Linked DNA regions of Homo sapiens. The main gene of each other region encodes a partner of the protein of the gene in region 2 in a complex. Each region holds a gene or a part of one and is shown on either strand. Other genes may lie near its edges. A codon is read from its position in the direction of its gene.

Region 1 (10,824 bases), on a different chromosome or scaffold from region 2:
CGGAAGAGGCAGTTATATCTTCAGGTTGTATCCTGAAGGTTTCTCCACTGGTCCATCTCCATTCTCCTTGTATCTCCTTGGTTTTTTTGTTACCATGTGGAGGAATCCCAGAGTGAACTCTTCCCTGCTCAGAACTTTGAAGGGTTAGTTAGATTGCTATGAAGTGGCAAGCTGCTGCCATATATCCCCTTCCTTGGCCTTTGCTTACAGGGTGATAGCACACTCAGATAAGAATCGCATGACACCCCACAACCTGGGAATTGTGTTTGGACCAACCCTGTTTCGGCCAGAGCAGGAGACATCTGACCCAGCAGCCCATGCTCTCTACCCAGGGCAGCTGGTCCAGCTGATGCTCACCAACTTCACCAGCCTCTTCCCCTGATGCAGGGAAGGAAGAAGAGAAAACATATTTCCGGTCATCTCTGGTGGTGAGAGGCTGGTGTTCTGTTTTGAGGATATCCCTTTAAATCTCCCAAATGACTGTCTCTATCTTCATGAGTGTGACTTGAGGTGTTGGGATGGGTGAGGGAGCTTCTCTAAAGAGGAAAGTGAGTGGATTAACCCCTGCTTCTCTTCTTGTTCCCTGTTATCATTCCTCCCCAACATAATAATACATAAAGTGGCATGGTATTTTTTCTGATGCAGTTCCTTTATTATCAGGAAACAGTGTCATTATCAAATTTCTCCTCAAAACGTATACAGACTATACATAGCCCCCAGCCCATACCTCCCATCCCTGGGGCATCTTGTGCATGGGACTGCAGCTCCCCCAATTTTTCTGGAAGGATAGAAACCCCTTAGGAAATGCGATCTGTGATGGATGAGATTCCCTACTCTTTAGGCACTAGAGTTGAGGAATTCTGTTTCCCCAGGTAGGGATCTCAGTAAGACACTCATGTTGCCCACAGCCATGTTGGGGGGCCCAGAGGGAGGTGGGGTATGTCCAGAGCTGCCCCGCTGATCATGGGAAGGAGGAGGACTCAGCCCCTGGGGCTCATCCAGAATAGCCACAAAGTCCAGCTGAGTGTTGTCAAGATCAAGAGAGTCCAGGGGGTTACATACCTGTCCTTCGGGAGGAGGGTACAAGGCAGGACCCCCTCCTAGCCTGCCCACCTCAGGATGACCACAGCTGGGGTTTGTGCCTCCCACTTTGAGAGGCCCATAGCAAGTGGGCAATGGGGGCAGAAGTCGAGGTGGTGCTGCTGCCCTATGTGAAGCCCTATTTGCCCCCACTACAAAATTTTCATGGCATGGTGAAGGGGTGGGATAGGAACCTGACTTGTGATTGGGCAAGTTGGGTCCAAAGCCAGGTCCATATGTGTTCACTGGAGCTTTAGCACGGCTTGGGCTAACCTGGGAACCCCCCAGAAACTTGGGACTCTGGTAGGAAGGTTCCTGGGCGGGGGCATCTTCCCTGCCCCCACCCTCCCACAGTAGCTCCTGTTGAGATTGAACATAATTACACACAAGCTGAGCCTTGAGCTGCCCTGTGGAATGGGTGGGGGAATCAAAGTCCAGGCAAGGCCTGGGTTCTGAAGGAAGATAATCAGGGGGTGGCTGGGTATAGGGGCCTGACTGGAGATATTGGGGAGGAGAGGGCTGGGGGTAATGGGAAAAGAGAGGCTGTGGATGTGGGGGCCCCTCACTGGGGTGGGCATTGAGGCAGGGTGCCAGTCCTGTGGAGTCAGACCCCACTGGGCACCCCTGTTCTGGCTTGACTTGCACTTGTCCATAATGTTCAAGTCGAGGACACTGGCTGTAGGTTCCACCTAGAGCCTTGGGGCCTGGGTACAGCCCAGAGTGGGAAGGGAACTCACCCCATGTTTCTTGGGTGGGGTCAGGATATGAGGCCTGCTGGGGACAGGGGTTGGGGCCATAGTTGGTGGGTGGACCAGGCCCAAGAGGCAGAGAGCCTGGACCCCTCGCTCCATAAGGCTCAGCTGCTGCCCCTTCAGGTCCCCCATATCCCAGAGTATCAGTAGGTGGGAAGTCCATATAGGGGTTCAGACCACTGCCCACCATGGAGGTCCCAACTTCTGGCTCTTCCTGTAGCCCTCTAGCATCCATGGCAGCATTCTCAGTGATGCTGGGGGGCTGTGGTGAGTAGACAGAGGTTGGGAGGTAAGGATCAAAGTTCTGTCCTCCCCCTGCCACAGTGGGTGGGGTATGGACACAGCCCAGGCTCTTGAACCTCTGGACTCTAGCTGGAGCAGGACGGTCAGCAGCCTGGGCTGGGTCACTGGCCCTCCGGGTGACCCCTGCATTGGGGTTGTATCCTGGATACTCGGCTCGGCTTCTCCAAGGAGGCATGGGAAGACCACCTATCCGATCCAGGCTGGATGCTGCAGTGGGCGAAGTACCACCCCCTCTGGCTGAAGCATATCTTGCCCGAAGCAGGTAGTGCTGGGCAGGCATAAGGCCAGGCAGGGAGGATGCTCCATTCTCTGGTGGGGAGCCAGGGGGGAAAGGAGAGGCCAGGGAGGAGCGGCGGCTGACAGTATAGGCAGAGCTGATGCTGCTGGAGCTGCTGCTGCGGCGTTCAAGAGAGACTGGGGGGCCCACGCGGCGGGACACAGTGGTACCTGCAAGTGATGGGGAGAAAAGGTAGGATGGTCAAGGAGCTTCCTAAATTTCACCCTGCCTCCTCCATGCAACAGCCTTGCCCTGGATTCTCAGGGGTAAGCTCGTTATCCCTAACCAGTCTGTTCTGTCTCCTACTTCTCCCATGCCTATTCTGTTTCTGGGTTACCAAGGATTCAGGGTTGCTATGAACAGTTGTGCAGGTTGTGTGCTGCACAATCCTAGGGAACAGCATTCGCATCATAGCCTTTGCATACTTGTTTGTTTGTTTGTTTTGTTTTGTTTTGTTTGAAACAGAGTTTCGCTCTTGTTGCTCAAGTTGGAGTGCAATGGCGCAATCTCAGCTCACTGCAACCTCTGCCTCCCAGGTTCAAGCAATTCTCCTGCTTCAGCTTCCTGAGTAGCTGGGATTACAGGTGCCCACCACCATGCCTGGCTAGCCTTTGCATGTTTGTACATCACAACTATTTTCTGATAAATGGAAAGTGTCTTGAGGAAGGACACCATTTTCTAATTATACAAAAGTGCTGTGTGACAGCCCTCAAGGGTGACTTCCTCCTCTCAACCTCAGGGCAGGTCCAGATCTCACCCCAGCCACACCTCCCACACCCAGGTCTCACCGGTGTGGGACAAGCTGGGCAGTTTGAGACCCCGGGTCCCTATTGGCCGGAGTTGATGTAGCTGGTCCAGCCTGAGGTTCTCAAGGCGGCGAAGAGTGGACAGACCAGTGCCAGCAATGCAAGGTCCCTCGTCCAAGCTGGAGAGGTCTTCAGTGCTGCCCCCTGCATTGCCAGTCATTTCCACACCACTGTCTGTATTGGCTGCACTCCCTGCCGGGGAGTGGTCACTGCTGCAGGATGACTGGGCCCCAGGGCTTGGCTGTGGCTTCTGTGGAGAAGATGAGGTCTGAGGGCAACACCCTTCCCCACAGCTCCTTCAACTTGATGAGTGGCTGAAGCCTGTGTCCCAGTGACTGCTGGGGTTCCAAGGAAGCTTGTAAGTGTAGAAAGGGCTAAGCAGGTAAGAGATGGGGGAGCAAACTGAATGTGAGACGTTTGATGAGAAGAACCTAGGCTGGAGCACGGACTGGCTGGACTCAAATTCTTGCTCTTAGTTCTATGACCTTGGGCTATTTCTCTATGCCTGAGTTTCTTCAACTGAAAATGGGAACAGTGAGTCCCTTTATCATGAAGTTGCTGTGAGGAGTACATGAAATTATACATGTAAAAGGCTTGGAACATATACTAAGTGCTATTTAAGAAAGAGTTGCCGGGTGCAGTGGCTCACGCCTGTAATCCCAGCACTTTGGGAGGCCGAGGTGGGCAGATCACGAGGTCAGGAGATCAAGACCACCCTGGTTAACACAGTGAAACCCCATGTCTACTAAAAATACAAAAAAATTAGCCCGGCGTGGTGGCAGGCGCCTGTAGTCCCAGCTACTCAGGAGGCTGAGGCAGAATGGCGTGAACCTGGGAGGCGGAGGTTGCAGTGAGCCGAGATCATGCCACTGCACTCCAGCCTGGGCAACAGAGCGAGACTCCGTCTGAAAAAAAAAGAAAGAGTTTGGGTTGGATGCATTGGCTCATCCCAGCACTGTGGGAAGCTGAGGTGGGAGGATCGCTCAAGGCCAGGAGTTTGAGACCAGCCTGGTCAACATAGCAAGACTCGATCTCTAAAAAGAAGAAAAATTAGCCAGGCATGATGGGGTGTGCCTGTAGTGATCACTTGAGCCCAGAAGTTTGAGGCTGCAGTGAGCTATGATTATGCCACTACACTCCAGCCTGGGCGACAGAGCAAGACTCTGTCAGAAAGAAAGAGAGAAAGAGAGAGAGAGAGAAAGAAAGAAAGGAAGAAAGGAAAGAAGGAAAGAAGGAAGGAAGGAGAGAGAGAAAGAGAGTGAGAGAGTGAGACAGAAAGATTCTAAAACCTCTAGATTTGGGGAAGCCCAAAGAGCAACACTAAGACAAGAGACAGGCAGACTGGTCACAGAAGAGTGACTTCTATAGGAGGGAATGGATGGGTTGGGAAGTAACTAGAAAGATGTCCACAGGGTGGGCTGGGGTATGGAGGTGAGGGTTGCCTGGGCTCTCTCACCATGGCACCCTCTGGCACAGTCAGTCTGCTTTCCTCCCTGATGGGACCTCCTTCCCGCTCCCTCTTGGGCTCCACTGTAGAAATGGATGGTGCCCGAGGCAGGGGGCCATCCCCACGGTGCCGTTTGGTCACATGGGCGTCAGGACCATGCACTGTCTTGACATGTTTTCGCAGCGAGCTAGGATCTGTATAGCGTTTGGTGCAGCCAGGGAGCTTACATACATACGGCTTCTGTTGAGTGGAGAGTGGAGACAGAAGGCAAACGGATCAAAGCGGAAGAATGCAGAAGAAATGGGAAAAAGTGGTGACAACACAGGGGGCAGGGGAGGAGCACACAGCACCAAAGGAAGTAAGGAGGATGGAGGCCTCCGGTGGGAGTCAAAGATGCAGAGATTAAGTGGAGGGTTAGGAAAACTGACAGCCTGGGAAAGATGAGGGGGTGAACCCAGGGCTGTGAGGTCCCATAAATCCAGGGGTTGGAGGGATCAGGGGTCTCCTCTAGATGGAATCTTTTAGGTTAGCCTTTTGGCTGGTTAGAGGTTAGAGGTAGGAGGAGGAGTGGTTAAGTGGAAATTCTGGGTTTCAGAAAAGCCTTTTCTGGGCGAATTATGTGGGGAGGGGGACTCACCTCTGTGGAGTGGGTGCTGGGCTAAGGGATTTCTTATGGGGGAATCTCCCTGGTAGGTGGCTTCTCAAGAGGGGAGGGTCGCTTAGTTAGGGCATTCACCTCATTGGAATGGGTCCGATTCTGGTGCTTGGCTCGGTCACTGGCATTGCTGAAGGCTTTACTGCAGCCCTCGTGCTCACACATGTATGGCTTCTCACCCGTGTGTGACCGCAGGTGCGTCTTCAGGTTTTCGAGGCGTGAGTATGACTTCCGGCACCCTTCAAACTGGGGGACATGCAGGGGTCAAAGGATAGTTCTCAGACAGAGGACATGGAGATGGAAGGAACCCTCAATCTCCAACAGGACACACATCAGAGAATATAACTCAAGATGAAAGGCACTGGGGCTTCGAGAGAATTCCCAAAACTAGGGGACAAGGGCAGGCAAGAACTTGGAGAAGGGAAGCAGTTGGAGGCACTCTCCCTTTGGGAATATAAAGATGCTAGAGCATCTTCTGACCAAGCCAGGGCAGATTTCTCTGCATGGGGATCTTAGGCTGTCCCAAGATGGGGTCATCTTGGGGGAACGGGCTGTTGTCCTTGATGCAGGGTTTATCCATTAGGCAGAGTAGTAGGCACAGTACTGAAGGCCAACAATACTTTAAGAGGCCCACGAACATGTTTTAATGTCTTTTTTAAAAAAAATTTTTTTTTTGAGGCGGAGTTTTGCTCTGTCGCCCAGGCTGGAGTGCAGTGGCGCCATCTCAGCTCACTGCAACCTCCACCTCCTTGGTTCAAGTGATTCTTCTGCCTCATCCTCCCAAGTAGCAGGGACTACAGGCGCCCATCACCACGCCCAGCTAATTTTTATATTTTTTAGTAGAGACAGGGTTTCACCAATATTGGCCAAGCTGGTCTCGAACTCCTGACCTTGTGATCTGCCTGGCTCAGCCTCCCAAAGTGCTGGGATTACAGGTGTGAGCCACCGTGCCTGGCCTGTTTTAATGTCTTTTAAAATCAAGGGGAAAAAAATGAGCTTTTAGGTCCAAGAGTGTTTTAATATATATCATCATATTCATCTTTATGCCAACACAGTCACACAAACATTATTTTTAATATTTGTTTATGGAAGAAAGGACTTATAAAAGCAAAAGTCTGCCTTGGGCCCTACCTTGAAGGAGAGCCCTGATTTAGGAAGAGACCCTGGACTTGGGACACTGGTGCCTCACCGTGCACTTGTGTGGCTTCTCGCCAGTGTGTCTGCGCATGTGAACCACCAGCATGTACTGGGCTTTGAAGGGCCTCAGCTCCCTGGAGCAGCCCCCCCAGTGGCACACGAACTCCTTCCGCTCCCCGTGGATGTGCTCGCTGTTGATGTGCTGAGGGAGAAGATACAAAGGCTCTCCAAGGCTCTCCCATGACCCTGAGGTCCAGAACAGACCTTCCCTCCACCCCCTGTTCCTCTTCCACGACTCCACCTCAAGGAGGAAGAGGCAGGAGCAATATCATATCTCACATCTCAGGTCTTCCAGCTCCCTAAGGCAAAGCTACAACTTCTGAGCTTCTGCCTACCCAACTGAGCATTCAACCTCAGTCTCCTCTGACCTCCTGCCCTCAGCCGGATTCCACCATGTCCCACTCAGAATCTCCTAAAGGTTCTGGCTAGCCATTCCTGTTACCCCCTGGGGCTCACGTGCACCAGCTGCTCTTGGGAGTCAAATTCCTGGCTGCAGCCATCCCAACGGCAGTCAGTTTCATACACAGATTCAGGCTCACGCTTCTCCTCTCTCTCGAGGTCCTCCCGCCCATCCAGCATCCCCAACAGGGGATCCTAGGGCAAGAGAGGCAATCTCAGGGTCACTTGGGTGACAGCTTTAGTTTTGCTCAGGTCCCAGAGGTAAAGCTCCTGCCCATCCCCTTACCTGTATGCCTGTGGAGTTGGGGCTGGACATATCACCTTCCAAGGGTTCCTCCCGGCACTTGCCAACCAGCATGTCCAGCTCAGACTTCAGCTTCCCCAGGGGAAGAGGTGACGGTGATGAGGGTGGAAGTAAGCAGAAGGAAGAGGAAACCAAGCCAGGTCTTCCTGCCCTAAGTGCCCCCACCCAAGCAGCTGGAACCTCCTGGGTTTGGAAGGGACTTCCTCCTCAGACTACACTGGTGAATGGGATGGGCAAAAGGTGGGATCCCATTTGGAAGCGTCTGACTCAACTGCAAGGAGTGAACCCCAGCACCCACACCTCTTTACTTTTCTAGTACTGAAAACTTATATCCCTTGTCCTTCCTTCACCTTTCCCCTACAAAATCCACCACCCACCCACCCTGAGCTGAGGGAAATCAGGTAGCAATATGGGGACTCTCACCTGGCAAGTTGGGAAGGGTCCCCGGGACTGAGGATGTGGGATCATCCCACCCCGGGCAGAGTCATGGGGACCACAAGGCTGGACCCCAAAGGAAGGCGAGGGCCCTTTTTGGTGATTCATCTGGGCTGGGAATCCCAGAGATGGGCTGAGGAGGAGAGGAGGCAGTTACTTAAGACAATTAGGAAGTCTCAGGAAGGATTGGGCTATTTGGAGGATTTCTGGAAGACTTGGGATTTGTAGTGGTTGAGGCAGTCCCAGGGAAGTACTGAGGAGAGTTGTCTTTGAAATGACAAGGATTCAAATAGGGTTAGGTAGTTTGAGGGCTTGAGACTTTTAATGGACTTGGGTAGGGGCTTTAGGGGCCTCTTGGCCCGGGGCTGACTGCACCTCATGGTGCCAATGGAGAGATGACCGTAGGAGCCTCCTGGAGATGTGCATCGCGAGTTGATGAAAGCTACGAGGGAGCTGGGTGAGGTGCGGATAACCGTCTGCAGGTCCAGGCTGGCATCCGACAGAGGTGAGATGGACAGTGCCCGCTTCTTGGTCAACTTGACTGCACTCCGGGGAGAAGAAAAGAGTGGGCCTGGGGCAGGAGACAGCGGAGACGGATATGGTAAAGGGGCATGTCTCTCCATGCACCTAACCTATGGGTCCTGACTTGGCAAAACCAATGATACTTGATTCTGCTTTGCCCTATTGATGCTATCTGTGACTTTTTTTTTTTTTTTTTGAGAGACACAGAGTCATGCTCTGTAACCCAGGCTGGAGTGCGTGGCACCATCTTGCCTCACTGCAACCTCTGCGTTCCCAGGTTCAAGTGATTCTCCTGCCTCAGCCTCCCCTGTAATCGGCACTACAGGTGCAAGCCACCACGCCCGGCTAATTTTTGTATTGTTAGTAGAGACAGGGTTTCACCATGTTGGCCTGGCTGGTCTTGAATTCCCGACCTCAAGCGATCTTCCTGCCACGGCTTCCCCACAAAGTGCTGGGATTACAGGCGTGAGCCACCGCGCCCGGCCCCATCTGTGACTTCTTGATGGTGCTCTGACGCCTCACATCTCCAAGCATCTCCTCCTCCAAGTGAGATCCCCTGCCCTCCCACTTTCTCTTTCAGAACAAGTCAGAGAGGGGCAGAAAGGGAAGAGGTGTTGCCTGAGCCCTCACCCTCGGTGCAGCTGTTGGTCTCTCTGGCTGGCCCATAACTGTGGGGGCCGGACATGAGGTTAGCTTGGTGGCAGAAGGGCGGGCCAGACAGTCCTAGAAAAAAGAGACAGCTGGAATGGGAATGGAGGATACATAAACCTCACCTTAAAACCCCAGACATGACCTGATCCCAGATTCCAGGTCCATATGACATGGGGCCTCAAATCCTCCTGTAGATAGGAAACTGGCATGGGGTGGGGGTGGGCCCAAGTGGGAGATCTGCCAAATCCTCAAGGCCCAGGGATTGGTATATACACTGACCTTCTGTCCCCACACTGGGGGCCCCCTGACTGGGGAGGGGCCGGAGACAGCAGGGCTCGCCATAGCTACTGATTGGTGGTGGGGTCATCGAGTTGAACATGGCGTCTCAGAGGAGGGTGTGGGGACACTGCAGAAAGGGAAGGTAGGTATAAAGGTGGAGGAAATAGAGACTGTCAGACAGCAGTCTCAGGCACAGAATCCTGGGCAGAACATCCCTGGTATCCCCCACCCCTCTAAGACATCTGCCACGGAATTCGAGTTGAAAAGAGCATCACTGAGCCGGGCACAGTGGCTCACGCCTGTAATTCCAACGCTTTGAGAGGCTGAGGCGGGAGGATCACCTGAGGTCAGTTGAAGACCAGCCTGGCCAACATGGTGAAACCCCCGTCTCTACAAAAAAACAAAAATTAGCCAGTCATGATGGCGGGTGCCTGTAATCCCAGCTACTCGGAAGGCTGAGGCAGAAGAATCGCTTGAACCTGGGAGGCGGAGGTTTCAGTGAGCCGAGATGGTGCCACTGCACTCCAGCCTGGGTGACAGAGCTAGACTCCGTCTCAAAACAAAAAAAGCATCACTCGCTGAGTGAGGGGAGGGGTAAGGGGAAATGATGTCCCAGAGAGGCAGAGGCAGTCTTGTAGTCTGTGTACTCTGGGGATCTTCTTGGGAACTGGGTGGGAGCTTTGCCTGGGTGGGAGCTTTGCCTGTGTGGTCTGTGTGTAGAAGGCATGTTTTGGACTAATTGTGCCTATATTAACTTCAAGTGATTTTAGTAACATGGACCCTCTAATTCTTCTTGCTGTAACCCTGGGCCGGCTTTGAGGGTGGGATGGGAGAACTCGTGTGATGGATCTGACTTCAAGCACTGGGCGGCTCTGCTAGAGCCCGTTCCCCCTTCCTTCTCGTGCCCCTCCCCAGGGACAGCCCGTGTACAATCTCTGCAGTGTCCAGCAGAGGGAGCCCTAGCCACAGTCCCGACACAGAGCCAGGTGGGGCCAGGAGGGAGCACAAGCCATCTGCCCTCTTAGACAGAAAACAGTGTGGAGGAGGAGGTAAGGTTCCTGAGGGGAGTCTTCTGGGTCTGTTGGGCACAAAGGTGAAAGCTGGTGTTATTCTGGGGTAGTTTAAATCAGGCCCACCTAATCTTTTTGGTCTCTGTTTTGGGGGAACAGGAAAGGAAGTATGAGGGGAGACTCTGAGAGAATGAAAAAAACAATGTGATCCTTATAAAAGCGTAGCGAGGAAGAAGGTGCTGCTGTCCGTTTTTCTTTTCAAACTCCAGTTTTGACTCCATCCCGGGTTTTCCAGTCTCCCGGGAATGAGGGTGGGGTGGGGCGGGATGGGGTGGAGAACCACCGGGAGCGGGCCGGGCCGGCCGGCGCGGTGGGTGATCCCGGGATGCTGGGATTTAGGGTGAGGGCGGGGTGAGATGGGGAGCGGAACCCGGACCCCGCGACCCAGCCCGGCCCGGCAGCCTGGGCTGTACCCTTTTCTAACTCCTCCTTTTCCAACCGAGGTGCGGATCCCGCATCCAAGACCTCCCAACTCGACCTTGGAACTAATGTTGGGGGGCGGGGGGCACAGCTGGTTGGCAGCTGGATGGGGGGACAATTCTCCCGCCTCCTTCCCTCTATGACTCACCCAGGGGAAGGAGGGAAGTTTGCAAATGATCCCCCAAACACTAGAGACTCCCCCAAACTTGCCTACTCAGTCATCTTTC
Region 2 (10,824 bases):
GCAGTTTCTCCGGGGAGCTGAGAGTAACCCTCAAGTAGCTTTAGGGTAGGAATGGTCTTTTCTAATTTCCCATTCCTGTTTGCAGCCTGTTTCTTCCTTCAGCATTTGGGCAGAACAGATGTTCTGGGGACTCTGGAAAAGAACCTGTCCTCAAAGTCTTGCTGGACCAAAAACTGAGATATTGGTTGAAACTGTCCAGGACCACATTCATGCAGGCATTGTGTAAGATGATCTTCAATGAGTCTTGAAAGACTGTTCTGCAGCTGCTTGGGGGTGTAGCCAAAGGGTAGACCTGAAGGGGCAAGTGGACATCTTTGCTGGTTACCTCTCCTTTTAGGACTGAGTCTTCCTCCTGGTGAAAACCTGTTGCTTCCCCTGGACATCGGTGTCAGTAGGCTGTGCAGGGCTGAGGCCAGCTGCCCGCATCAATGGGAGGATGCCAAGAGGCCAACAGCGTGGAGAGCCTGGGGACCAGCCACCTGCTGTCTAGGGAGGATTGTAGGGAACAGCCTCCTCTGTCAGAGTAGACGGGAGGAGGTGGAACTGGTGTCGCAGTCCTCTCTCACTGGCGAACTGTTCTCTGGTTGAGAGGAGTTGTTGAAGAGCGCTTCTGAGTGGAAAGCAGCTCTTGCTAGCTTAATGACCCATTCTCATTGTGCCTTTATATTTAACTATGTGTTGTGATGAACTTGTTGTCATGTGTCAGGAGAAAAGTGGGCCTGGGCTGGGCACAGTGGCTCATGCATGTATTCCCACCACTTTGGGAGGCCTTGAGGATCCCTTGAGGCCAGGAGTTCGAGACCAGTGTGGGGAGCGTAGCCAGACCCTAACTCTGTTATTTGAAAAAAAAAAAAAAAAAAAAAAAAAAAGAAGTGGGCCTGGCTCTGCCACGCTGTTTGTTCAGGCCTCATTTGAGTGTGAGGAGAAATCCCTACACAGATTCAGGCAACTATTTTTATGTCACCCAAGTAGCCATAAAGGATAGAATTGTATGTAAAAGGTATGAAAGCATGTGCAAAGGACTAAGGGCAATTTTTTTTTCCTTCCTGCTGCAAGCTTGTTAACAGCCATATCTTCAGAGATGGGCCAACATGTGATAATGAAGAAAAGGGATTATACAGCACTTTGTGAAAGCCCTTCCTAGATGCAGAAAAGTATAAAGAGAAACAGCACAGTGACTGGTACTTTCTTTTTTTTTTGAGACAGAGTTTTGCTCTGTCACCCAGGCTGGAGTGCAGTGGCACGATCTTGGCTTACTGCAACCTCTGTCTCCCGGTTTCAAGCGATTCTCGTGCCTCAGCCTCCCAAGTAGCTGATATTACAGGCACACGCCACCTTGCCCAGCTAATTTTTGTATTTTTAGTAGAGGCAGAGTTTCACCATGTTGGCCAGGCTGGTCTCGAACTCCTGACCTCAAGTGATCAACCCACCTCGGCCTCCCAAAGTGCTAGGATTACAGGCGTGAGCCAGTGCGACCAGCCATCAGTGACTGGTACTTTCTAAGATGTGGAGGGGTTTGCAAAAATAAGATCCTGAAATTCATTTATATTCCTCACATTTGGGATCCCACGAGGTTTCTAGCAGGATGACTGACCCAGGCTGTCTGGGTCTGTCTGTGGCCCAGGGTAGCTTGGGATTCATTTTGCAATAGCAGTGTGGCTCTGTGACTGGTGATCCCTGAGTAGTGGGGACATTCTAACTGAAAGCTGAGACTTTGGTGAGCAAGGATCAAAGCAGAGAGGCAGAACCTGTACTCATGGCCCACTTCAGTCCTGCAACTGCCCTGCAGAGAGAAGTTGGGTGTTCAAGGAATTAAGTTGAGGGATGCCCTGGGACCTTGGATAACATCATTTGCTAAGTGTAAAATGCGATTTTTTTCCACATACTCATCTGGCCTCTGAGTAGTAAGTAAACAGAATACTCTGTGCTTGGGGACAGGGTTAATTTTATCTGACTCTTGGTAGTTCCTTGCAGTTGGAGTTTGAAGGTTAAGCTTCTCTCCTTGATGTGACACCTTGTGGGAGACTTGGTGAGAAAGAGGGCTGCAGGGATGCTGCAGATGGAGCAGAGAATGGTAAACACAGTTTTGCAGCTTGGTGCAGGATGGACCTAGGCTGTAGCGGGGCAGGTTTGGAAATTTGCAGCAGGAAACTGGAGCAGGTATGGGGCCTGTAGTGGCTCTCATCTGCTCTGGAGTTCTGTAGCTCTAATGGGGTCTTTCCAGGGATCTCTACTCTTTTCTTTCTTCCCTTGCCCCACAAACTTTTCTAAATCCAACCTGTTGTAGAATTAGTCAAGTGATTTGTTGAAATCAGTTAAGGCAGACATGGAGAGTTGTCCCTCTTCCTCTGTTGAGATGCTAAGCTATTTGTAGCAACTTTCTTAAAAGTTCTATAAATAACTTAGCATTTCCTAACAGAGAATAGGGATTTCTATCCACAAAGGCAAATAATATCCTGGTGAAAGAGGACGAAACAAGACCAACTGGTTTTAAATAGTGTTTAAATTGCCTGGTGCTGGCACCATTGACTGGGATCACTTGTAACATGTCTTTTATTTGGTTGTTAGCTTTCCACCAGCATGCTATCCCAGTTGCAAAGTGTACTCCATCGATGTCCCAGGGGCAGGTGAAGCTTTTGCAGTCTGTGGAATGGTCAGATGTTTGAGGCAGCTCAAATGCCGTGTTTGTGGGCTAAATGCAGACTTCCTTCCACTGATGGTTTCTATTTGGTCTATTTCTCTAGCTACCAAAATTTCTTATCCATTTTTTTTTTTTTTTTTTTTTTTAGACAAAGTCTCACTCTGTCACCCAGGCTGGAGTGCAGTGGCGCAATCTTGGCTCCCTGCAACCTCTGCCTCTGTTGTCCAGGCGATTCTCCTGCCTCAGCCTCTCAAATAGCAAATAGCTGGGATTACAGGCACCTGCCACCACACCTGGCTAATTTTTTGTATCTTTAGTAGAGATGGGGTTTCACCATGTTGGCCAGGCTGGTCTCAAACTCCTGACCTCAAGTAATCCACCCACTTCGGCCTCCCAAAGTGCAGAGATTACAGGTGTGAGCCACCGTGCCCGGCCAAAACAGGATTTTTTTTAAAAAGCACTGATTACTAAAGGGAACTCTTATTGTATTAAATCCTCAGAGTGAGATAATAACTGAATCTCTTCCGCAACTCCTTCTCAGTTGAATGGTGGGGGAAATTTAATGTGGTCCTGAGAGGCCCCAAATCATTTACCATCCCAGCTCTACCTTTGATGTGGCAGTCTCTCCTGGGATCATTTTCTGGGTGCAGATGCTCACAGGGCGCAGTTTGACTCCTTCTGCAGTTCTCTGTGCAGAACTAAGTTAAGCCTAAGTTTGGCCTTTGTCACTTGCAATGATAAGAGACCAGCTTTGGTCTATGGGGTGCAGGCTGGTGTCAGCACAGACTAGAGGCTTTGGGTTTGTTTAGAACAAACTGTAATTAACATAGGGCACAATATAGTCTTTCAGGAATTAGCTGTCTAAGAGGCTGGAGTGGAGCAGAGCCTCTGCTTCCAGGAACAATGCCCATTGGGGATGCTTGGGATGGTCTTTCAACAGAGGCCAATTGATTGACTGATGTACCTCTTGCCTTGAAGCTTGGCATGTATACAGGCACCACAGAAGAGAGACAATCCCTGCCAATCTCATTTGGGATCGGTAATTTGAAACAGGAGAAAGCAAAATGGGTAACCATCCAGTCTGTTTTATTTCTAAAAGAGGCCCAGTCTTTCAGGGGTAGGAGAAGGGAGCCTCTTGGGCTTGCAGAGTTGGGCAGCCTTAGCTGTCCATCCCTTAGTCTCATTCTGGAGAGATGTGGCCTCTGTTTAGTTACCTTTCACCCAGGTTCCTCCAGGATGGGTCCTTTAGGTTTACAAAGTAGAGCGCCTTAGCTTGACATTGTCTGATTTCCAGGCTTACACTAACACCCCTGTGTTTTGTTTTTTGCAGGTTGGGTGGCCCAGACCCCTTGGACTATGTTAGCATGTACAGGAATGTGGGGAGCCCTTCTGCTAACATCCCCGAGCACTGGCACTACATCAGCTTCGGCCTGAGTGATCTCTATGGTGACAACAGAGTCCATGAGTGAGTATATGCCACCTGTTCTTTATCCAGAGCCTTATTCCTGAGGTCTTCCTGAGCAGGGGTGACAATGTCATAGTGCTGTGAGCATGGTACTTCTCCGTGGAACCTCTGCATTTCTGCCCTCTGACTATATCTACTCATGCCAAGGTGGTCCTCGTTAACACCTGATTCCTGCTTATCTAGTGCAGGAAAGTCTTGATGAGCAGGATTCCCAAATCAGGTTTTTCTAAGCTTGCCCTGGAGTTTGGGCTCATAGGACAGGAAGGTAGCATGGTTATGACTCAGAACTTGGGCTGATGCCTCTGTGTCTACTTCCTTTTATTCCCCTAGCTTATTATGAAACATTTTAAACATAAAGCAAAGTTGGAAGGATTTTATAGTGAACACTCATATACCCACAACCCAGATTCTACTGTTAACTTTATACTTGCTTTATCACAAATCTGTTCATCTCTTATCCTTTATCTATCTTACCTACTTCCTTTTAACCTGTATTTATTTATTTTTTTATCTTAGTCTGCTTCCGTTTGTTGCCCTATATGCTTTTTTTTGGAGATAGGGTCTCACTCTGTCATCCAGGCTAGAGTGCAGTGGTATGATCATGGTTCACTGCAGCCTCGACCTCCCTAGGCTCAGGTGATCCTCCAACCTCAGCCTCCCGAGTAGCTGGGACGACAGGCAAGCACCACCATGCCCAGCTAATTTTTGTAATTTTTTTGTAGAGACAGGGTTTCACCATGTTGCCCAGGCTGGTCTCAAACTCCTGGGCTTAAGCAGTTCTTCCACCTCAGCTTCCCAAAGTGTCGGGATTATGGGTGTGAGCCACTGTGCCCAACTCAGAGTTCATACTGTTAATGACTGTATTCTCTTGCCTTTTGAGCAATTATATCATGTACTCCAATAAGCTACCAACTATTTTTTTTAGAAACAGAGTCTCGCTTTGTTGCCCAGGCTGGAGTGCAGTGGGGTGATCTTGGCTCACTGCAAGCTCCACCTGCCGGGTTCACGCCATTCTCCTGTCTCAGCCTCCTGAGTACCTGGGACTATAGGCACCCACCACCACGCCCAGCTAATTTTTGTATTTTTAGTAGAGACGGGGTTTCACCATGTTAGCCAGGATGGTCTTGATCTCCTGACCTCGTGATCTGCCTGCCTCGGCCTCCCAAAGTGCTGGGATTACAGGCGTGACGACTGTGCCCGGCCTGCTACCATCTATATTTTAAAAAGATTTTTTTTGGCTGGGCACAGTGGCTCATGCCTGTAATCCCAGCACTTTGTGGGGCTGAGGCAGGTGGCTCACTTGAGGTCAGGAGTTCGAGACCAGCCCGGCCAACATGGTGAAACCTTGTCTCTACTAAAAATACAAAAAATTAGCCAGGCATGGTAGCATGTGCCTGTACTCCCAACTACCCCGGAGGCTGAGGCACGAGAATCACTTGAACCTGGGAGGCAGAGGTTGCAGTGAGCTGAGATCGTGCCACTGTGCTCCAGCCTGGGCAACAGAGTGAAACTGTGTCTTAAAAAAATAATAATTAGGCTGGGTGTGGTGGCTCACGCCTATAATCCCAGCACTTTGGGAGGTCGAGGCAGGCGGATCACCTGAGGTTGGGAGTTTGAGACAAGCCTGACCAACATGGAGAAACCCTGTCTCTACTAAAAATAATAAAATTAGCCGGGCGTGGTGGCACATGCCTGTAATCCCAGCTACTAGGGAGGCTGAGGCAGGATAATTGCTTGAACCTGGGAGGAGTAGGTTGCAGTGAGCCAAGATTGTGCCATTGTACTCCAGCCTGGGCAACAAGAGTGAAACTCCATCTCAAAAAAAAAAAAAAAAGTAATAATAATAATAATAATAATGAAAATAAACAAAGTTTTTTTTATTTATATTCTTTTGATGGAGAGTTTCTTTTCTTCAATTTAAATGTAATCTTTCTATGTTTGTATTCTGTCAATTAAAAATAAAATAAATAGTCTTCCCTCAACCTCATTAGCATGGTTAATCAAGAGCTGATTTTATTTGTATTGTCATATCCTCTTCTGGTTTTTGCCTTTTGTACTTTTTTGCCCCTTATACCATGTCTTTTCTATCTTGGTGGTGGCTGCTTAACCTGGGCAGGTTGAAAGAGTAGCAGGACTCGTCCTGTCCTGCCTTTGCATAGCGACCAATTCTGGAGATGATGATGGTATCATAAAGAAGATGATGATAGCCTTTTTTCCCTTTGTTTAGTACTTACTGTCTTCCGTGTCATTGTGTTAAATGCTTTACAATCTTATCAGGGTCTCGTTATTCCTATTTTATAGATAAGAAAAATGAGTCTCTTGAGGGGTTAAATGAATTGCTAAAGTTACAGATCTAGGGGTAAAAGAGCTGGGATTGAATTGGGCTGTTTGAGTCCAAAGTTTGAGCTTTTTTGTTTTGTTTTTTGAGACAGGGTCACGCTCTGTCACCCAGGCAGGAGTGTAGTGGCTCAGTCATGGCTCACTGCAGCCTCAACCTCCTGGGCTCAAGCAATTATCCCACCTTAACCTGCCAAGGAGCTGGGACTACAGGCATGCACCACCACACCTGGCTAATTTTTCAAATTTTCTGTAGAGTTGAGGTCTCACTATGTTGCCCAGGCTGGTCTCAGATGCCTGGGCTGAAGCGATCTTCCTGCCTTGGCCTCCCAGAGTGTTGGGATTACAGGCGTGAACCACTGTATTCAGCCTCAGAGTTTGAGCTTTTAACCACTGGGCTATTCCACCTCTCTGAACACAGGCCTAACCCAACTTCCTCTTCTCTCTTGTTAAGCTCAGAGGCCCAGGTTTCATCTCTTCGCTGGTCACGTGTTGGGAGCAATGTCTGCAGCTGCCTTTACAGCCTTCCAAATGGATTCATTGCAGTGTCAGCAGAAGGATTTGGGAAGAGGGAATTAATCTTGCCTGAATGGGGACCCAGCATTACAGTATTAATAATGGAGATAGAATAGCAAACAGATGTGGGGAGTAAAGAGACTATGCTGGACCTTAATTTATATTTTTAATAAGAACCTGCAGAGAGTATTTAGTGCAGCTAGCCTGTACCTTTTTGTTGACAGATTTATTCTGGTTAAAAGAATATCATTTCCTATGTGGCTTAAGGATTCTTCCAGTCTACCTGCTAGGTATAGGCCCAAGGCCCAAAATAACATGAAGAATGTGATTGAGCAAGCCTCATATTTCAGAAGGGGCAACCTCTTAATTTGAAATAGGACCTTTCTTATTGTTTTTTTCTGGTTTAATACTATCCTCTTACATGTGTTTCATTTCTACATGGTACAGCACTTTGTATTCATATGTCATTTATGACAAGAGTGAAACCTCTATTTGGGTTTTCATGTCACCAATCAAGCCTAGTATTTTCCAGTATTACATCCTGGCACTAGAAGAATGTGGAAGGAATGTTCTCAGATATTTACCCAGTTCTGGTCTATGTTGCAGAAGTCAAAAGTACTTCTATAGGCTGCGCATGGTGCCTCATGCCTATAGTCCTAGCACTTTGGAGGTCAAGGCAGGAGGATCGCTTGAGCCCAGGAGTTTGACACCAGCCTGGGGAACATAGTGAGACCCTCCCCCATCTCTACAGAAAATACAGAAATTAGCCAGACATGGTGGTGTGCATCGTAGCCCTAGCTGCTTGGGGGGCTGAGGTGGGAGGATCACTGGAGCCTGGGAGTTTGAAGCTGCAGTAAGCCATAATTGCACTACTGCGCTCCAGTTTGGGTAACAGAGCGAGACCCTATCTCAAAAAATAAATAAAGAAAGAAAAATAATAAAACACGAATAGGTACCTTTATAATTGGCTTTGTACTGGGATGACTGGTTTCTTTTTGATCCTGTTAAGTTTCTTGAAGAAAAATGTGATTTTCCACACATTTCGTAATGGTGGGGCCTCTTTAAAATGACTTAATGAATCCTCATTTAAATTAGTACTCAAAGCTAGGCCAGAAAGGCAAGTGTTCTGCCATCCAGCTTAAGTGCTAAGGGGCGCTGGGTTGGAATGATGGCAAATGGATCTCTGGCAACAATTCTTCCACTGTCTGTGTCTTCTCTTCAGCAAAAAAGGAGCAGAAGCATTGATTCATTTTTTCAGCACACATTCATCAAGCACCTACTTTGTATCAGACACAGAACATCGTAATAGATGTCTTGGGGGATAAAATAGCAAGACATAATTCTTGTCTGAAGGAGCTCATGTTCTAGAGGGGAGATAAACATGTAAAGATGGTTATAATATTGAGTAATAAATGCTACAGTCCATGGGTGTAAAACACGGTCTGGGAGCAGAGCAGAGGGAGTAACTTCTAGTGAGGCTGCTGAATTGCTAGAGGCTGCAGTGAGGAGGTAGCGTTTGAGAGGAACCCTGTAGGAAGGGGCCTGGGATGCCATCTGCAGCCTGACGCGGTACCAACAACGCTTTTAGGAGTGAGAGGGACTTGAAAAACCTTCTAGCTCAGTATTTCAAAAACTTCTAGTGCCACTTTCATAATTGTTGCCACTTGTAGTATTATTTACTTCATGTTCCTTTTAAGTTATCCTCTCCTTTTTTAAACTGATATGAATTTATTTTTATTTTTATTTTTGAGATGGTCTCGCTCTGTTGCCTAGGCTGGAGGGCAGTGGCGAGGTCACGGCTCACTGCAGCCTCAACCACTCTGGCTCAAACGATCCTCCTACCTCAGCCTCCCAAGTAGCTGGGACCACAGGCATGCACCACCACACCCGGCAAATTTTTTTTTTTTTATTGTTGACACGAGGTCTTGCTATGTTGCCCAGGCTGGTCTCGAACTACTGGACTCAAGCAATCCTCCTGCCTTGGCCTCTCAAAGTGCTGGAATTGCAGGCAAGAGCCAGTGCTCCTGGCAACGGCATTTATTAAATGCCTGCTGTGTACCTCCTCCTATTATGATCTTTCCTTCTCCTCACAGCCTGTTGAGGGTAGGGACAGGCAGAAGCGAGGGGTCCTCTGCATTTCTTCTTGCTCCTGGCAGGCATGCTTCAGGGTCAGGAGGGGATGCCCACCCTGGTAACCCTAAAAGGGATGAAGAGTATGATGATTTGATAAGCCTTGGGATGGCCATTTTCATTCAAGTTCTTTCCTTATTCACATTCACTAAAGGAAACCAGGCAAGAGAGCACTTGTTTTGATCAAGATTCTTAAGAAGCCATTTCTGAAGTTGGAGAGATGGAACAAGTTCCAGGTCTGGGCAGCCACAGGAGAGAACAGAGTGCTTTTCTAGGAACCCCAAGGCTGCTCCCAACTGACCTGAGTGGAGAAATTGTCCTGTGGGACTCTTCCCTGGGACTTGGGAGGTGTCAGACAGCTGAGCCTCAGCTGCCAAGTGCTGTCGGAGCTTGCAGCTCTGGCCTTCCCCTTCATGGCCAGCTAGCTGTGGACTGGAATGTGGGGATCTATGCGGCTGTAGAAGTGGTTTCAGCATCACTCTGTGAGGATTTCTGGCTGTCCCTGGTACCACCAACAGCTCTGGCTAGACAGAGCCTATGGGGCCCTAACCGAGGCTGGAAGGCTGGGTAGTTGGAGAGTGCATTTGAGAACTCAGGCAGACTTCCCTGGTGGGATTTTCCCAGGGCAGGTCATCTGCTGTACAAGTCGGGCTGGTTCCAAAGACAGCCTTTGTGTGGAGTTGGCCCAAAAGCATGGGTCATGCCCATGCCTCACCACCATGGGTGATCTAGGCTCTGTCTCACAAATGTGACTTCTTGGCGCACATGTCCAGTGGAGTTTGGAGCAGTTCTGCACCCCCCGTGGGGTCTGGAACTGCCGCTGACCGGCTTTCTGGGGCTGCCTCCACCCGGTTGGTGGAGAGCCTCCCTTTCCCTTGTGTTCTTCTTAGCTGGGCTCTGCACCCGCATGAGTTATTTATTAAAACACTGGATACAGATTAACTTTTCCACTTGTTGTTTAGTGTGGCCTCCGTCTCCTGCAGTTGAGAAATGCTAATTTTTCCTCCTCAAAGCTTAGTTTGCCGGAACTTTTTTTTTTTTTTTTTTTGAGACGGAGTCTTGCTCTGTCACCCAGGCTGGAGTGCAATGGTGTGATCTCACTCACTGCAACCTCCACCTCCCTGGTTCAAGTGATTCACCTGCCTCAGCCTCCCAAGTAGCTGGGACTACAGGCGCATGCCACCATGCCTGGCTAATTCTTGTATTTTTAGTAGAGACGGGGTTTCACCATGTTGGCCGGGCTGGTCTCGAACTCCTGACCTCAGGTGATCCACCCACCTCAGCCTCCCAAAGTGCTGGGATTACAGGTGTGAGCCATCCCGCCTGGCCTGCAGGAACTTTTTAACATGTCGTTTCCAAGAGAGATCCTTTCTTCGCCATACACATCTGTACTGGGAGCTTGGTCCCTCCTCTGGTTGGACCTTTGCCCTCCTCCTAGAGCTCTCATGAGGCTGGCAACCAGAATGCCTCCCTAAGCCACTGGACCCACCCCTGGCTAAGTTTAGCAGGCTAAAAGAAGTGTTCTGCAGGCTCATTGGGGGGCACACCTCCCTGAAGCCTGGTCCCTCTGCCTTTCCTCTCAGGGATGTTCAGTGTCAGGATGACTATTTGCATGAGATGGTGGAGTTCCCTGCTAAGAACAGGTGATCTGGACCACCAAGCAAGCGTGAGGCGTCCTTTGTCACGGCCCAGTGTGGGGCAGGGCCCAACAGGGACTCTCCAGAGCCCTTCCTGA

What was found.
Region 1: the proteins of SUFU (region 2) and GLI1 are in contact, whole or in part, in a crystal structure (PDB 4KMD), measured with the Homo sapiens proteins. Residues at the interface, in NP_057253.2 of Homo sapiens: Leu144, Tyr147, Asn153, Thr154, Phe155, Gly158, Asp159, His160, Val161, Ser162, Trp163, His164, Gln212, Asn265, Leu266, Ser267, Gly268, Val269, Ser270, Ala271, Glu376, Leu380, Lys398; in NP_005260.1 of Homo sapiens: Gly119 (codon at 8,065), Ser120 (codon at 8,062), Tyr121 (codon at 8,059), Gly122 (codon at 8,056), His123 (codon at 8,053), Leu124 (codon at 8,050), Ser125 (codon at 8,047), Ile126 (codon at 8,044), Gly127 (codon at 8,041).

The regions. Positions count from the first base shown.
Region 1 is NC_000012.12:57,462,075-57,472,898, reverse strand, and holds the end of GLI1 (zinc finger protein GLI1), read right to left. Parts: intron 10,157-10,824; exon of another isoform or gene 9,927-10,156; intron 9,235-9,926; 5' UTR 9,208-9,234; coding exon 9,108-9,207; intron 8,901-9,107; coding exon 8,808-8,900; intron 8,227-8,807; coding exon 8,031-8,226; intron 7,789-8,030; coding exon 7,644-7,788; intron 7,293-7,643; coding exon 7,203-7,292; intron 7,112-7,202; coding exon 6,974-7,111; intron 6,660-6,973; coding exon 6,510-6,659; intron 5,567-6,509; coding exon 5,402-5,566; intron 4,906-5,401; coding exon 4,675-4,905; intron 3,469-4,674; coding exon 3,201-3,468; intron 2,583-3,200; coding exon 838-2,582; 3' UTR 631-837; downstream 1-630. Other genes in the region: ARHGAP9 (rho GTPase-activating protein 9), read left to right, coding at 211-382. UniProt on the Homo sapiens protein: Acts as a transcriptional activator. Binds to the DNA consensus sequence 5'-GACCACCCA-3'. Regulates the transcription of specific genes during normal development.
Region 2 is NC_000010.11:102,505,198-102,516,021, forward strand, and holds part of SUFU (suppressor of fused homolog), read left to right. Parts: intron 1-85; exon of another isoform or gene 86-118; coding exon of another isoform or gene 119-222; intron 223-3,081; exon of another isoform or gene 3,082-3,709; intron 3,710-3,971; coding exon 3,972-4,106; intron 4,107-10,824. UniProt on the Homo sapiens protein: Negative regulator in the hedgehog/smoothened signaling pathway. Down-regulates GLI1-mediated transactivation of target genes. Down-regulates GLI2-mediated transactivation of target genes. Part of a corepressor complex that acts on DNA-bound GLI1.